2 linked regions of the Homo sapiens genome follow. The protein of the gene in region 1 purifies or fractionates together with the protein of each later gene. This does not show direct contact. Each region holds a gene or a part of one and is shown on either strand. Other genes may lie near its edges.

Region 1 (3,818 bases):
AAAAAGAATATGTTGCATATCATTGGGCAGGTTGGTTCTAGGCCAAGACAGCAAAGTAGAAAATACATTTACTTTCTCTCCTTCCTAAGATCTTGAAGAAATAAAGTGCCTATATTTAAATTTTTTTTTTTTTTTTGAGACGGAGTCTCGCTCTGTTGCCTAGTCTGGAGTGCAATGGCGCCATCTCGGCTCACTGAAACCTCTGCCTCCCAGGTTCAAGCAATTCTCCTCCCTCAGCTTTCTGAGTCGCTGATGGGATTACAGGCACCCGCCACCACGCATGGCTAATTTTTGTATTTTTAGTAGAGACAGGGTTTCACTATGCTGGCCAGGTTGGTCTGGAACTCCCAATCTGCCCGCCTTGGCCTCCCAAAGTGCTGGGATTACAGGCGTGAGCCACCGCGCCTGGCCTCTTTAAAATTTTTTAAAGAATGCATCAATAACATTGGAAAACAAGAAGGGATGCATGACATCAATGGAGCAAATATTTGGAGGAATTCCAAGAAGACAGAAACAAGTTTGAATTAACAGAGAAACCAGAAGGAAAGGGCAGTACAAGTTACCAAAGGTAAATGTGGTTTTCCCAAGAGCACCTTGAAGAAACTCCAAGCTGAATCAAGAAATAGAAAGGGCAGGAGAAGCTGAGGGGGTAACTGTTAGGGCAATTCGTTCAAGAATGAAAGTGAACGGTGGCACTAGTTACATGTGTCCCCTCTCTCACAGACAAAGCCGGGAAGGGTGGCTTTTGGTTGCTCCATAGAACCAAAGAATACCCCAAAGAAAATGGGTGATAGCCTTAGAATGGCTTGCAAAGGTGAATGGACCTGAAAGAGAAGCAGACCAGATCAGGAGCTAACTCTGAAACTCAAGGATGGTTTTAAAAAGCGGGGAAGGGGTTGGACTGAAGAATATAGAAGGAAACCCTCCTTTCTTTGACAAAGGCGGTAGTTACCAGCCTGCTCCCTCTCACGCATTCAACAAGGAAGCCTGGCTGCCCGTTCTCCAGATTACCTTCCCACTCAGAACATGCAAAACTGGCTGGGCGCGGTGGCTCACACCTGTAATGCCAGTATTCTGGGATGCCGGGGTGGGCCGATCACTTGAGCTCAGCAGTTTGGGACCAGCCTGGCCAACACGGGGAAAACCTGTCTCTACTAAAAATACAGTAACTGTTGTATTACTGGGCCAGGCATGATGGTGCATGCCTGTGGTCCCAGCTACTTGGGAGGCTGAGGTGGGAGGAGTGCTTGAACCAGGTTGATGGAGGCTGCAGTGAGCTGAGATCACGCCACAGCACTCCAGCCTGAGTGACAGAGCGAGACCCCATCTCAAAAAACAAACAAACAAATAAAACAACATGCAAAACTCCCTTCCTCTCCAGGAAAGAGGCCTAAAGGAGAAACAGGCACACACACATCTTGATATATTTAAAGTACGAGAGACATTATAGACACAAAACAGGTTTCTATGAAAAAAGGAGCAATTAAACAACTAGAAATGTCTAGGAATTTAAAATGACTGCAGAACAAAAATTTTCAGAAAATCTCATGCAACAGAGAAGAGATAAAAACACTAAAATATGAATGGAGGCCTGGCTAGGTGCCTCATGCTTGTAATCCAGTACTTTGGGAGGCAGAAGCAGATGGACTGCTTGAGCCCAGGAGTTTGAGACCAGTCTGAGCTGAGACCCGTGTCTCTACAAAAAAATAAAAGTAGGTAGGCATGGTGGAGCACACCTATAGTCCCAGCTACTTCAGAGGCTGAAGTGGGAGGATCACTTCAGCCCAGGAGTTGGAGGTTACAGTGAGCTATGATCACACCAGTGCACTCCAGCCTGGGTGACAAAGTGGAGACTCTGTCTCTAAAATAATTTAAAAAAAAAAAAAAAAAAAAAGGATGAATAGACACGGAGGATAGATCCATATGGCCAACAATCTAACAGGAGTTCAAGAACATGAGAACAAGAGACAATACAGTAGACAACCGATACAAACTTTTAATGTGCTAAGGCATGTCTTTAGATTGGATGGGCGCATCAGATGCTGAGACATTCAACCTGATGGATCTTTTGAATACCAAAGATAAGGAAATCTTGTAAGCTTCTACAGATAATCAATACTCACAATGGTCTTTAAAAGTTCAGAGGCAAGGCCGGGCATGGTGCCTGTAATCCCAGCACTTTGAGAGGCCGAGGCGGGTGTATCACCTGAGGTCAGGAGTTCGAGAACAGCCTGACCAACATGGCAAAACCCCGTCTCTACTAAAAATACAAAAAATTAGCAGGGCATGGTGGCAGGGGCCTGTAATCCCCAGCTACTCGGGAGGCTGAGGCAGGAGAATCGCTTGAACCCGGGAGACGGAGGTTGCAGTGAGCTGACATCGCGCCATCGTACTCCAGCTTGAGGAACAGAGCAAGACTCCATCTCAAAAAAATAAAATATTAAACTAATTCTAGAACTAAGTCTCAGAGAGTCTATTTGACCTACAAGATTTGAAAGATAAACATTTTCCTTCAGCAGACCTTCAATGATAATTAGCATCCATAAAAGCAAAACACACAAGAGGAAATAGAAAAGTATTATATCCCAGGTATTATTAGAATCTGCAGTGTAACTTACTTTGCACCCTGTACTAGACAAGATATTTGCAGTCACAAGCATATTTGCAGATCGGCAAACAGAGCTGTTTAAGTACTGGAACCTCAGAGTTGGAGGAAAGATAGAAAAGGGAAAGGAAGACAGCTAGAAAGGATGCATCAAGACCAAGGAATTTCCCAGATATCCTTCCGGAACAATTCTTATTGTCACTTTGGATGCATCATAACTTCTTTTTTTTTTTTGAGATGGAGTCTTGCTGTGTTGCCCAGGCTGTAGTACAGTGGTACGATCTCAGCTAGCTGCAACCTCCACCTCCCTGGTTCAAGCAATTCTCCTGCCTCAGCCTCCCGAATAGCTGGGATTACAGGCACACACCACCAACACCCGGCTAATTTTTACATTTTTCATAAAGATGGGGTTTTTGCCATGCTGCCCAGGCTGGTCTCGAACTCCTAACCTCAAGTGATTCCCCCCACCTCCTTGGCCTCCCAAAGTGCTGGGATTACAGGCATGAGCCACGGTACCCGGGCAGCATCGTAACTTCTAAGCACTTATTTTCATGGACTTGCCAAGAGCTCAAGAGCAGCCTGGGCAACACAGTGAGACCCTGTCTCTACAATAAATAAAATAAATATTTTCCTTTCTGCACAACTCTCCACAATCCAACAGTGGTCTCTAACTTTTGGACAGGAGAATCACATCACTGAGAGACTTAGAATAGGCTTCTAAGCATTTAGTAAAACGAGCCTCCTCACAGGTGTCCGCCTGTGTTGTCAATATGTGGCTGTTGTCTACCCGGAGCCTATGTCAGAATCAGCAGATGCTCAGGCCCCACTTGGAGATATTAAAATCCAGAAGATCTGAATGGGACCCACGCATTTTTTTATATACTGGAAGGAGAAAAAAATTGTTATAAGGACATTCAAATTGGATGGTACCAATTTTGTTTAGCCTTCTTTCCCCTGGGCACTGTTGCCCACATACCTGACACTGAATTCTTGCTAAGTATTAATATATGATTCAAGTGTTGCTTTGAGGCCACATAGATACAGAGGACAGCTAAGGTTTTCACTTGAGGTCTCACTCCCTCCGTGGGAAGGCTGATTTTCTCCCATTCTAAGAATAACAATAAATAAAAAGTATCTTAGCTGCTTTCCGTGGAAGTCCAAACAGGTTTACTATGAGGCTAAACGCCCAGGCACACTGTCCTTCAAATTTCTA
Region 2 (3,594 bases), on another chromosome or scaffold:
AGTGCAGTAGCACTACCTTGGCTCACTGCAAACTCTACCTCCTGGGTTCAAGCAATTCTTCTGCCTCAGCCTCCCAAGTAGCTGGGACTACAGGTGCGTGCCACCACACCCAGCTAATTTTTGTATTTTTAGAAGAGACGGGGTTTCACCGTGTTAGCCAGGATGGTCTCGATCTCCTGACCTTGTGATCCGCCCGCCTTGGCCTCCCAAAGTGCTGGGATTACAGGCGTGAGCCACCATACCTGGCCATCTAAACTTAATTATCTCCCAAATGTCCCATTTCCAAATATCATCACATTGGGGGTTAGGGCTTCAACATATGAATTTTAGGGGGATATAATTCAGTCCATAGCACTTTGTCTTTTGGTGGACCTGGGTGCTGGGTGTGGTCATTACTATTGGAGTGTCATTGCTCTCACATCAGTGCAAAGGACTATACATACAAAAACATATTTACATCTATCTCTATAGACTGAAATACACGAGTTCACACTGATATCTCCAATTCGACACCACAGGGTTTATTCTAGTTTTCTCCCTTTCCATATTTGTGGGAGCCAGGTTTTTATGAGACAATTTTATTGGGAGATAATTCTGTGTCTCTTGTGGGTGTCTTAATTGTCAGATTTTGTACGCTTTGACCACCATTTAAATTTTTTAAATGCAACAAAATATCAATTTTGTTGATACTTTGTGGGCTGAGATGTTGACAGATTTTGTTCCAGACTATTTCAAGGATTTTTTTTTTCTTGAGATGGAGTTTCACTCTTGTTGCCCAGGCTGGAGTGCAACGGCGTGATCTTGGCTCACCACAACCTCCGCCTCCTGGGTTCAAGCGATTCTCCTGCCTCAGCCTCCCGAGTAGCTGGATTACAGGCTCGCGCCACCACGCTTGGCTAATTTTTGTATTTTTAGTAGAGACGGGATTTCTCCATGTTGGTCAGGCTGGTCTGGAACTCCCAACCTCAGGTGATCCGCCTGCCTCAGCCTCCCAAAGTGCTAGGATTATAGGTGTGCCACTGTGCCCAGGTATTTCAAGGATTTTTGTACAGCAAATGGCCTTAGAAGACAGAGATAGTATCTCCCTAAGATTGTGGTTCCTTAGCCGTCATGCAAACCTGCAGTGTGTAACACTTTCCTGGGCCTGCCAGTATTGCCCTGTGGGACTTGGAGGGCAAGGGAGACCAAGGCTAACACACTGCCTGCTGTGCCCTGAGCAGTAGTCTCTGCCCAAGTAATCCTGTGTTTTCTGCCAGCATTCATGAAGCTGGCTCCCTAACACAAGAAGTTGTTGAAAGTTCTACTCAGCTTCTTAGCTGCCTCTTCCAGAATCAGCAGGTGCCCTTATGGGAAAAGTAGCTCTAAGTCCCAGGCTCACTTCTCTTGAGTTTCCTTCGTGTCCTGAATTTTGGTTCTATATTGCCAGCTGATGCTTTCAGATAGATGCTGTTTATATTTTGCACAGCTTTTCTAGTTGTTCTCTATGTTCAGTGGGTCCAAATTTCCTGGTCTACCATTAGTGAAAGTGGCAGATGGTGAAGGCAATTTTCAACTCAAAGGTTTCAAGGCCACCAAAAAGAGAAATACACATGTACTGAGAAAGAAAAGTCAAGACCTGTAAGAAGTGTCACAGGTTTCTTAGGTCACACATACAAAACTGACCCATATATTCCTGAAAATGAACAGACTGTCTAGTGCCCCAGACCCCTGCTATGGATACCCTATTTGACCTTCAGGCTTAGTTCCAAAGCCAGCTATATCTTTTATAAAAGACTTTCCACCCTATCTCCTTCACCTCCTCACCCAGCCAAAGGAAACCTTCTTTCCTCTGTTCTCCCACAGGACTTTATACCTCTGTTAGGGCACTTCTCCATCTCTGCCACGTTATAGCTGGCTGACCACCCAAATTCATAATTAGCAACTTGAGGACCCAATCATGTCTTAACCATCTTTGCATTTTTCAGTATGTCTTGAATAGAGAATTTATGAAAATAAATGTTTGCATAAGCTGATAAAGGAGATGAAGAAAAACACACAGAAGGAGAAAACCAAGGGTGTGGGATCAGAAAATCCAAGAGAAGAGAGTGTTTCTGGAGAATGAAGCAATAACTGAATGCTGCTGAGAAGTCAGAATGATGAAGCCTGAAAAGTTTCCCCTAAATGTGGCAGCATAAAGGATTCAGGAGAACACTGACTTTTATTGAGGAAGACAGGTCAAATGTTGTTTGGAGTCACTGCATTTTTTAGGCAAGTCAATTAGACAAGCTTCTTTTTTTTTTTTTTTGAGACAGAATGTCGCCCAGGCTGGAGTGCAATGGCACGATCTCGGCTCACTGCACCCTCTGCCTCCCAGGTTCAAGCAATTCTCCTGCCTCAGCCTCTGAGTAGCTGGGATTACAGGCATGCACCACCATGCCTGGCTAATTGTTGTATTTTTAGTAGAGATGGGGTTTCACCATGTTGGTCAGGCTGGTCTCGAATTCCTGACCTTGTGATCCGCCTGCCTCGGCCTCCCAAAGTGCTGGGATTATAGGCGTGAGCCACCGTGCCCGGCCTGGCAAGCTTCTTCTTGAAGAAGGATGAACAGTTCTCAGCAAAGAGGAGTCATCATTCTTCTGAACCACCATAAACATTCCAGAGAAGAGGTAGATAGAAGGCTAGATCCTGGAGGATGTGCTGTGGTGAGCTAGGCCCTCAGGCAGGTGGTGGTGCCCAGCAGAAATGGCACTGTAAGCCAGGCTTCCCTGGTCCTAGGAGAATGTTTTAGACTAGATGTCTAGGAGAAGTCTGGGCACTACCACTGGTCTTCATAGACCTGCATCAGGCTGGTCCTAGGCCTCCTGTTCCAGCTACATAGTGGACACCTCCCTCTGGGCTATAGCACACAGGGCCACAGCGCAACTGGGGCTCTTCCTCCTCATACCAGCGCTGTTCACTGAAGTCAGGGAAGAAGGCTGCAATCTCTCTGCTGGCTGAAACCACAGAGTCTGTAAGGGGAGATAAGACAGAGAAGGGGTTCTCACATGGTAGAAGCAAGAGGCAGTCATAATCAGGTTCAGAATCCTGAGCCTCTACTCTGCCTGCCCCTTCAGTCCTGGGGCATGTAAAGAAAGTCCACAGGCCACATCTGCCAACATGGCTACAAAGACCAGAAACACAAATGGAAGAAAGCTCACTGGAGGGACCTGGCTGTCAACTCTACCACACAGCCTGCCCGCTAACCCCAAAATATCCTATGGCTATGGACAGGGGACTCACCCGAACCATGGGTGGTGTTGCGGGTGTCAGTGAGGCCGAAACTCCCACGGATAGAATCTGGGGCCACATGGCGTGCTCGGAACACTCTGGTGGGTCCCATGAGCGTCCTCCAGAGCTGGATGGCATCCTTGTGGGCAAGGATGTAGGCTCGGATTGGCCCGCTGTGAACAAAACAAGCACATGTAAAGAACCTGGCCATCTAGACTAGGAGGGTGTGCTGTGAGCAGGGCCTGAATAAAAACACACTCTACGTTCTGAGAGTTTTCCTGCCTTTCCAGCTGAGTACCAATGCTGCTTCAAATAGGTGATGCAGGGCCCCTGCTGGTGTACATCAAG

Evidence for each region.
Region 2: the proteins of NOCT (region 1) and NME6 purify together in Homo sapiens (affinity purification with mass spectrometry; one large-scale study listed by BioGRID and IntAct). This does not show direct contact.

The regions. Positions count from the first base shown.
Region 1 is NC_000004.12:139,022,122-139,025,939, reverse strand, and holds part of NOCT (nocturnin), read right to left. Parts: intron 1-3,818. UniProt on the Homo sapiens protein: Phosphatase which catalyzes the conversion of NADP(+) to NAD(+) and of NADPH to NADH. Shows a small preference for NADPH over NADP(+). Represses translation and promotes degradation of target mRNA molecules.
Region 2 is NC_000003.12:48,291,817-48,295,410, forward strand, and holds the end of NME6 (nucleoside diphosphate kinase 6), read right to left. Parts: intron 3,420-3,594; coding exon 3,259-3,419; intron 2,988-3,258; coding exon 2,821-2,987; 3' UTR 501-2,820; downstream 1-500. UniProt on the Homo sapiens protein: Major role in the synthesis of nucleoside triphosphates other than ATP. The ATP gamma phosphate is transferred to the NDP beta phosphate via a ping-pong mechanism, using a phosphorylated active-site intermediate. Inhibitor of p53-induced apoptosis.